2 linked regions of the Homo sapiens genome follow. The protein of the gene in region 1 interacts with the protein of each later gene in a pairwise test. Each region holds a gene or a part of one and is shown on either strand. Other genes may lie near its edges.

Evidence for each region. Proteins that work in one complex are often made in the same cells at the same time.
Region 2: the proteins of SLAIN2 (region 1) and SGO2 interact in a two-hybrid assay, tested with the Homo sapiens proteins (one large-scale study listed by BioGRID).

Annotation. Positions count from the first base shown.
Region 1 is NC_000004.12:48,379,106-48,383,773, forward strand, and holds part of SLAIN2 (SLAIN motif-containing protein 2), read left to right. Parts: intron 1-584; coding exon 585-743; intron 744-3,462; coding exon 3,463-3,822; intron 3,823-4,541; coding exon 4,542-4,668.
Region 2 is NC_000002.12:200,524,297-200,529,759, reverse strand, and holds the start of SGO2 (shugoshin 2), read right to left. Parts: upstream 3,554-5,463; 5' UTR 3,508-3,553; exon of another isoform or gene 3,020-3,507; intron 1-3,019. UniProt on the Homo sapiens protein: Cooperates with PPP2CA to protect centromeric cohesin from separase-mediated cleavage in oocytes specifically during meiosis I. Has a crucial role in protecting REC8 at centromeres from cleavage by separase.

The sequences.
Region 1 (4,668 bases):
TTTATTCCTCTGGCCTGTTTTCTGTCTTCCTTTTGGTTTAGAATGATAAAGTACTTTAAACATGGCATAATGTAGGAGAAACAAGCCTCATGGTCTTTGTTCCTAAAATCTCTAAGGAATCTAATTTTATTCAAATTATAGTTTTCTCATTTAGAAAAATGAGGGAAAAGATGATGGTGTTTGTCAATGACTGTGAATTCGGGAGAAGAAAACACTACATCATAAACTCATCTATTTATAGAGCAGTTTCATTGGCTATCTTGTGCAAGTTGAAATCCTTAACATATACTTATTGAACACCAATTACTTGCCAGGCACTGTGCTGAAAGCTGAATTGTTACATAAGAGAATAGATAAGTTATACTTAGATGAAAATATGTTTATGCCATAGCATATAAAGGAGTCTCAGTAGCCCTCATTTTTCTTAATGAGGTCAATTTCTAATTTCAGGGAATTTTTTAAGCAGAAAAGGCAGAACAAGAATGAATTAAATCAAAGGGTATAATATCAAGTTAGTTGCAGTAGGCATTTATTCAATAGTTGCTTTACCAGAGTTTGAATTTTTTTCTTTTTTTTTTTTTAAGGTAACTTGAAAAGCTCAGACAGAAATCCTCCACTCAGTCCTCAGTCCTCTATAGATAGTGAGTTAAGTGCTTCAGAATTAGATGAAGATTCAATTGGATCCAATTATAAGCTAAATGATGTAACTGATGTACAGATTCTAGCCCGGATGCAGGAAGAAAGTAAGTATTCTAATTGTTAAGAGTTGAGGTTTTTTACTATTGCATAATTTTGTTGTATATTAAATATGTCTTAAAGTATTGTGGGGGTAGTAATGTAGTGAAAGTAGAAATGTTGCAGTGGACATTTCAGAGACTTAGTCAACATATGTACATGTTTATTCATCAACTTGTTTTCAGAGTCCATTTTTACATAGAGCAGTTATGCTGTGTGAGGGACAAAGAACAGCATTTATGCTGCTCTGCTTCTATGACTGGTTTTTATACCCTGCATGTTACTCTGCACTAGCACTTAACTCTTGTAATTGTTAGTCTATTACCCTTTGTGTTTTAGTGTAAACCAGCGTTTCTCAATTTTTTTCTTTTCGGTTGCTCCCCTAAGGAGCCTTGTTAAAAACTTCTTTTCCTTTTCTCCCACACTCCCCATGAAATCTTAATACCACAAGATATACTCTATATATGTTTAAGTACTATGAGGGCCATATACAATTATGACATCTAGGAATTTTTTCACACCCCAAGAACCAGTTTTTGCCCTCTTGGGAATGAATATCTCCTCACTTGAGAATACATGGTGTAAACTGTAAAAAAGACCTTTAGGAGAACATTGGAATTGTGACATTAAATTAAATGAAGCATGTGATGGTGCTTTGCAGAGTGAATGATGAAAACTTTTTAGGCCACAGATACCTTTGAGAATCCTTTTATCATCAAAGTGTACATATGCACAAAATTTTTAATACTTTTTAAAGGGTTCATGGCTACTTGCCCTGGTACTCATCTGAAGGTACTTATTCTTGCCAGTGCATTTCATTAGAAGATGCCATCTGCATAACTATGAAGTAAGAAATCTCTCTAAAGCAATCTCTTCAACCTTTACAATGAAAAGAATCCTTGAAATACATATGTTGACAAGTCTTGACAGGTGGCTGAGGTTAATGGAGCATTGCTACGGTTTAGTTCAAAAACTTTCTGTTGTCTGTGTATGTAATAGGTTCTCTTTAAATATGTAGTAGGCTTTATCAAGCTGTAGCATTTATTAAGAAACTAAAGTGTTTCTTATTCTGCTGATTCACTTCCCATTTCCATATAGCTTCCCCTAGGAAGATAGAAGGACTTAGTGCTTGCTTTATTTAGCCCTGCAACCTAATAGCAGAGTACTCTTTTTCTTCTGTAATTTTAATTAACTCCTCAGTGAGACTGTGGTATTGTCAGCTGGTTAGGGGGTGGTTATTGTTGTGGATGTGAAAAAATAAAGAATGCTGCCTAACTCTGTACTTTAGAACAAGTTCTCTCATTTCTTTGAACCCTGGCTTTTTAGATCCTAGTATTTTGTTAGAAGCTCAACCAGCTCTTTGCTTTTGGTTTTGTATTGTGTTTTGGTAACAATAGAAATTTTAGTCTTACTTTAATAATTTTTTCTAAGCCATCCACATGCATGAATATTTATTTTCCTGATGAGTAAAAATAGTAATAAAAATATATGTGATACTTCTTGAAAACTACAGCTTTTTTTTTGTCTTAGAGATGATTTTCCTTTTTACAACATTGTGTTTTGTAATGATTAGAAATGTAGAACTACAGATTTGGGCAGTCACCTGGTCAAGGTCATTCGTTTTTAAGATGAGAAATGCAAGCTCCTATAGTGATCCAACAGTGCTCTTTTCATTGGTCTGTTGTCTTTTGTTAGGTGACTTTAGTGCCATGTTGGCTATAACTAGACACTAAGTAACTTGTTGGTTACTATTTTGGTTCCCCGACTAACTGAAGGGCTAAGTGGACTCCAGGAATTTATAGTTTTAAAGATACCCTAGGGTGATTCTCATCCACTGGTTTGATGAACCGTGTTGATAGCACTTTCTGTGTGTGAATACATGACTTTAGGATTTGAATACCACTTTATAACAGATCTTTTTGACTGGAGTGCTAATAGTTAGCAGGTTGTGCTCAGAATATTACCTAAATTCTATACGTTTGCATTGCAGTTTGTTTCTTCATTGACTATGTTACGTATCAACTTTTTTTTCTGTTGTTCTAGAAGCATCTGTACTATTTGAAGGGCTCCCAAGGTTGCTTGGGTGTTTTCGAAGGTATCAAGCTATATAGGAGAATTCTTTGAAAATTCTTACTTGAAGACTTAGAATTTAAGCTTGAAAACAAGCTTAAAACAATAAAAATGGAAGTCTCTTGGGTAGTGAAGCAATCAAGATTTCGTTTGTGCCCAAGTACTGAATTCCTATAAGTGGGTTAGAAGTTTCTTTGGTACTTTATCATCTTCATGAGTAAGATTATTTCAGTAATTAAGTATCCAAGAAGTTTTATTTACTCACATACGTATTCTTTTTCCACTGGTTGGATGGTAATTGTTTCCCCTCAATATTCCTTTAATATTAGTCTCAAATTTGGATTACTGTCTTTAGGGGTAGAAATATTTTTAAATTTATGATTCTACCATGTGAGACAGATTTCAGCTTTAAGAAGAAATCTGGAAATTGGGCAGTGGTTTATGGGATTTCATTCAATTTAAAAATAACCTTCAGATGTGATTTATGCCTCCTTATATGGACATATAAGCCTATATAAGTCTAAAAGCAGAAAGGGAGTTTTCTTTTACACTTTACACCCTCTTTGAATTTTTCAGTGATAATCTTTTACTTTAAATTTTAAAATTATTTAAATGTTTAAAAATATTGTTTAAATAAATAACATTCATTGTTGCCAGGTCTCCGGCAAGAATATGCAGCCACCACGTCTCGGCGCAGTTCTGGTTCATCTTGCAATTCTACAAGACGGGGTACTTTTAGTGATCAGGAACTTGATGCACAAAGTTTAGATGATGAAGATGACAATATGCATCATGCAGTATACCCTGCTGTTAACAGGTTTTCACCATCACCACGCAATTCACCTCGACCGTCACCTAAGCAGTCACCCAGAAATTCACCTCGTTCACGATCTCCTGCTCGGGGAATAGAATATAGTAGAGTGTCCCCACAGCCTATGATTAGCCGCTTACAGCAACCTCGCCTTTCACTTCAAGGCCATCCCACAGATTTACAGACAAGCAATGTTAAAAATGAAGGTAAAATAGCAGATTTTACTAATAATTAGACAGTTTCTGCTAGCCTGTGTAACATAGCAAGACCCCGTCTCTAGGAAAAAAATTTTCAAAATTAGCTGGGCATGGTGGTGCACATCTATAGTCCTAGTGACTTGAGAGGCTGAGGCTGGAGGATTGGTTGAGCCCAGGAGTTCAAAGCTACAGTGAGCTGTGATCACACCATTACACTCCAGTCTGGGCAACAGAGCAGGATCCTGTTTTCAAAAAAAAAAAAAAAAAAAAAGTTTCTAGATTAAAAAAAGAGAAAAAGTGTCCTTTATATTTCACTATGAAAGTAATACAATTTTTGCTAAGTTTTTGTATTTCAGATAAGTAAATCAAGAGTGTAGTCAGGTTTACTATTTTATTAATAGTGAATCATTACAAAAATAAAAGAGAAAGTGAATTTCATTTTACTTGGTTATGTTGTTTTTGCTTTATTGTTTTATGAAGTTACCTGTATTTAGATTTTGCTTTAAATATAAAATTTGTGGTTATCTTTAAGTGTTCTCTTATTCTACCCACTTAACAGATCCTAGATCGAGTTGTTTGTTTTTTTTAATAAGACAAGTCCTTTGTATTTTCTCATCTAAAATAAACAGAATGTTTGATAAACAATTTGATTTTTGAATGCTAGTTAATATTTTAATTTTCTCCATCTGAAAGAATATGATTTTTTTAAAATTAAAATTCTGTTGCAGAAAAACTAAGACGCAGTCTTCCAAACCTGTCCCGAACATCTAATACACAAGTTGACTCAGTGAAAAGCAGCAGAAGTGACTCAAATTTTCAAGTGCCAAACGGAGGAATACCTCGTATGCAACCTCA
Region 2 (5,463 bases), on another chromosome or scaffold:
GGTCAGGAGTTCGAGACCAGCCCAGCCAACATGGTGAAACCCGTCTCTACTAAAAATACAAAAAAATTAGTTAGGTGTGGTGGCAGGTGCCCGTAATCCCAGGTACTCAGGAGGCTGAGGCAGGAGAAATGCTTGAACCCAGGAGGTGGAGGCTGCAGTGAGCTGAGTGAGATCAAACCATGGCACTCCAGCCTGGGTGACAGAGTGAGACTCCGTCTCAAAAACAAAAAAACAAAAAACAAAACAAAACAAAACGAAACAAAACTGTAGCTCCTTCCCTCAACATCTATCACTATCTAACATACTATAGATTTATTTATTGTCTGTCTTCCCCAACTAGAATTTAAATTCTAGGAGGTCATGGATTTTTATGTTTTATTCACTGATATATTCCCCAGCGCATGGAATAGCGCCTTACAAATGATATCAACACAGTAAATATTTGTTGAATGAATAAGTAAGTCTTAGAAACTAAAAACTTGTCAGGCATCAAGATTAGGAAGGGCATTCCAGGAAGAAAGAATGGCATGTGTAAATGCATGAAAATGAAACATTTAAGAAAATACAAGTGGTCCCTTGATGCTGGAATGCTATGACCTGATTTCCCTGCTTCCCTTCACAGCAAAACTCCTTTAGAGAGTTGTCTATACTTGATGTCTCCAATTTATCTCCTCCCAGTCTCTCTTGATCCACTACAATGAAATTTCTGCTCTCACCACTACTATATGGGAACTGTTCATTAAGGTCACTGAATTACTATGTTGTTAAATCAAATACTGTGGTCAGGCCCAGTCTCTTTTTACTTGATCTGTGAAAAGCATTTAATATCAAGTCATTCCTTCCTTTTGAAATACGCTCTTCACTTGGTTGCAAAATAGCACATTCTTCTGTTTGTTCTGAGGCAGGATTTTCTCCTGCCTCGCTGACCACTTCTCAGTCCCTCTTGCTGGTTATTCTTCATCTCCCTAACCTCTTACCACTGGAGTGCCCCAGATCTCAGTCCTTGGATCTCATCTCTTTTATATTTACATATACTCCCTGGACTATCAGCCAGTATCCTGGCTTTTAAATCTAAATGCTGATAACTCTCAAATTTGTGTTCCCAATCTAGACTTTTCCCTTGAACTCCAGATTTATTCATCCAACTGCCTACTACGCATCTCCAACTAGGATTTCTAACACACATCTCAAATTTAACATGTCCTAAACTCCCCCCACCCCAACCTACTCCACCATGTCCTCCCTAGCTCACTTAATGACAACTCCATTCTTTCAGTTGCTCAGGTCAGAAAGTTCCTTTCATATCCCACATCTATTCTATGATCAATTATGCTGACCCAGCTTTCACAATATATCCACCTGGGCTACTTACCACTATTTCTACTGCTACCACTTTGATTCAAGTTGCCATTCTCTCCCATGTACATTATTTGCTATAGCTACGTGAATGGTGTCCCTGCTTCCATTTTCTCCCCGACTATCTATTCTTAACCTAGCAACCACAATGATCCTTTTAAAGCTTAAGTAAATTCATGTTACTCCCATGTTAAAAAAAACTCTCCAGTAGCTTTCCATCTCACTCAATCTTTAAAATGGCCTAGAAAGTACTATACAATTTGACACTTCTCTTCCCCAATTAATCATCAGTGAACCTTTCTAATCCTTTTCATTAATCTTTCTCTTGCTCAATAATCTCTGGCCACACTGCCTACCTTGACATGCTCTAAAGCAGAAACTTTTATTCCTTCTTCCCTTTGTATCAACTCTTCCTTCAAATGACCACAGGGCTTGCTCACTTCCTTCGAGCATTTGCCAAAATGTCACTTTCTTAGTGAGCCTTCCCAGTCCAAACTACTTAAAAACTGCACACTTACCCCCATTCTCCCCTTCTGTTTTATTTTTCTCCGTTAACTTATCAATGTCTAAGATAAAATTAAATAGTTAACTTATTATCTGTTTTCTCCTACTAAATTGTAAGTTCAATGAGGGCATAAACTTTTGTCAAATTTGTTTGCTTCTGTACCTTAGTACAGAAATGTGCCTGCCACATAGCAGCTGCTGGATAAACATTTGTGGAAGAAGTGACTATGAATGAATGGAAGAACTTTCCAATAGAAAAACCGCCCACTCTTGGAATGGGTCTCCTTTGAAAGTGTTAAGCAGATGTTGGGAGGTGTCAAGCAAATAACGGAAAGATGGTTTTAGAAGAAATTTCTGCAATGGGGAATAAGTTGAACCAGAAACCTTTCAAGATTAAGGCTCAACAGTTCTTTTAAACGTTTTGCCAGGAAGAAACTTTAAAATCAAAGATCACTATCTATCTCAAAGACAGTAGAACACAGAAACTCCCCACAAACTGTTGCATCTCACACACCTGAAAGGGATCCTAACATAGAAATCTAGTTCATCTCCCAAAAAATCCAGTCTGGAATATCAAATCTCACTTTACTAATTAGGAAACCACAGCTGGACTGCCCTCCCCAATAAGCTGGTTCTGACACAATTCCTTAATTTAATAAACGACACTGTCAATCGCCTATTCAAATCCTCATGCCAGAAATCTGGGAGTGTTCCTTGACACTGCCCTGCAACCCCCTACATCAATGACCTCACCAAGGGAAACTTTAGGAGCCAGAACCAGGCATTTGGGGTACTGTTCCAGGGTGATTTACCATATAGACACTGAGACATTATGATAGTGATTACAACTGTGTTGGAGCTCCAGTTCCAACGTTTCATAGCTATGTGATCTCAACACCTCTTCGTCTCAATTTCCAGATTTATAAAACCATAAAAAATAAGGGCATCTCCTTGTAGGGACTAAATGAGCCAATGTATGTACAGTGTCTAGTACGGGACCTGGTAAACTATCAGCACTCAATACCAGCACTCTGTGACACTTGTCCGGCCAGCATCTCGACTATCTCTAAATACGAAATACTCAGTTCCACATCCAATTCTCCTGAATTGGATACCTCATCTAAAAAATCATTGTCCCTATTCTCTACTGAAATCCTACCTGTACATCAAGCAGCTCAAGTTCTAAGTTCCAAGTTCTCCCTAGTCTTCCATCACCCCTTCGCCTTCAGCCAGCCTCTCCAAACGAGAGGGCTCCTTCGAGAACTTTGGCACGCAGTCCCTAACATTCATTCCGCAGACACGTACTGAGCGCTCACAATGCCCTAGAAACTGTTCAAGGGAGTAGAGCAGTCCCAGAGACAGAAATATCTTCCCTTAAGTAGCTGACCTAACTGGTGGCTCTCCCCGCTCGCCCTGCCGGACGCTCAAATCTCAGAAACAAGAGGCAGCGACTCAAAGCCAAAACAGGACTCCGTCAACGAACCCCTCGTAGCCGGAGAGGGGCCGCCGTCCCGGATCCCGGAGGACAGAGGGCGGAAGACGAGCCGGAGACCGAGGCGGACAGCGCCTAGAGAACCGACTCAAGAACGACACCGATCCCGACAGGGAGAGGGCGGTCACGTCAACTGCCGCAGGCCACTAACTTACCTCTCTTTCAGCGTGGGGCACCCCCACCCAGCTCCGGGAGCTCGGCGAGCAGCAGCGGCTGCGGCTTGGGTTTAAACGCCACAGCCGTTGGCGGTTGCCCCATCAGCCAATCGGGTCCTGCGAAGATGGAGCAAGGGAGGGCGGTTACTAGGAAGTGAAAGGCGGAAAGGGCGGGACGCCGCTGCTAGGGCAGGAAGGGGCGTGCCCAGGCGAGCCGGGGGCGGCACAGTCTGCGTGACAGGGGTGCTCTTCCGCCCTGTGTTGGTGGCGGTCCGCTGTCTCCTGAAGCGTTGATGGAAAAGGAAACTCTCCTCTGACATTCATTATCAATCACATGTCTGAAAGGCTTGACAGCCACCTCAAGTCTGTTAGAAGGTTTATGTTGTTTACTGGGATACTACCCACCCACATCTTACCATTTCTTCTGCATCCTTGCATTTCCAAGTGTGACGCCAGCACATTTAGTTTTCACTTAAAAGCTCTCCCCGTTTTTCTTTTAACTTTCTGGGGGAAAAGCAGCAATGACATTTCGTTGCAAACCCCGGATCTCATTAATATTTAGGTCTTGCACTAATGGTCTGTTTTAGCTGAATATACAAGAATGACGTTTTCCATTATACACAACTACATTTTAAAAATGTATTATTCACCTTATATTCCATGTCAATTCGCTTATTTTTCGCAAATTACTTTCATAATTTTTACAAAGAATTTGGAGAAACTACAAAGAATAAAATTTCCTCTTTGTATGCCATTGGACTGAAAATGAAAATAGCTTGTTAAATCAAGGTTCCAATAATTGATGATACAGTAATGCAGTCAGCTTCATATTCTTGTCAATTTTTTGTTCATTCGAAGACATTTGAGAATTACAGCTTTCCATTTTTACTTTAAAGAATCTAGACAAATGATGCAAAACATGCTTTTGAGTTAAGATCTTTTAGTCTAATATAAATCACGATCAGTCTCCAAACAGATCTGGTTACATGAATCTTGTGTAAGTAGAAAAGTATTTACTGATTGTCCAGCTGCTAAAATTCCAGAAGACAGTGGTTTACAAAGTAATATACTGGTTATAGAAATTTATGCTTACCTAGGAGTTAACTAGCACTATATCTTGTTTACCCAGCCTGACACATTAAATGCTCAATGTATGTTATATGTTTTTTTAAATGAACCTTGTAGTGACTGTGCCATTTAATGGTTATTTAATCTTGGCCAAACTACTTAATCTCTCTGGGCTTCTGTTTCCTTATTTGTAAAATGGAGTTAAACAGCATCCCATATATTTTTATGATGGTTTCAATCAATGGGCCCTTTTGTTCAAATACATTAATATTGCTCTCTTCCCAATGGACACATTTTGTAGTTACAGCTTCAAAACCAAAACAAATAGAAAAGGGAGACAGGAAAATCAGAGGTAGAAGAGATGCTAAAACATTTATCAAGACATGAATACCAAGACCTCTTTAAAAAAAAAAGTGCTAGCCGGGCGCGGTGGCTCACGCCTGTAATGCCAGCACTTTGGAAGGCCGAGGCGGGCGGATCACGAGGTCAGGAGAGCGAGACCATCCTGGCTAACACAGTGAAACCCCGTCTCTGCTAAAAATACAAAAAATTAGCCGGGCGTGGTGGCGGGCGCCTGTAGTCCCAGCTACTCCGGAGGCTGAGGCAGGAGAATGGCGTGAACCCGGGAGGCGGAGCTTGCAGTGAGCCGAGATCGCGCCACCGCACTCCAGCCTGGGCGACAGAGCAAGACTCCGTCTCAAAAAAAAAAAAAAAAAAAAAAAAAAAAAAAGTGCTACCTTATCTCAGAGCAGTTGAAAGGATTTAACTGCTTTGTAAATTGTAAAACCTCTTGAAAATGTAAATTAGTATCATATACAACCATAAACCTAAAAGTATAATTAGTCGGGTTAAATTTAACGTGATCTCAGCTTGCTTTTTAGTTATTTG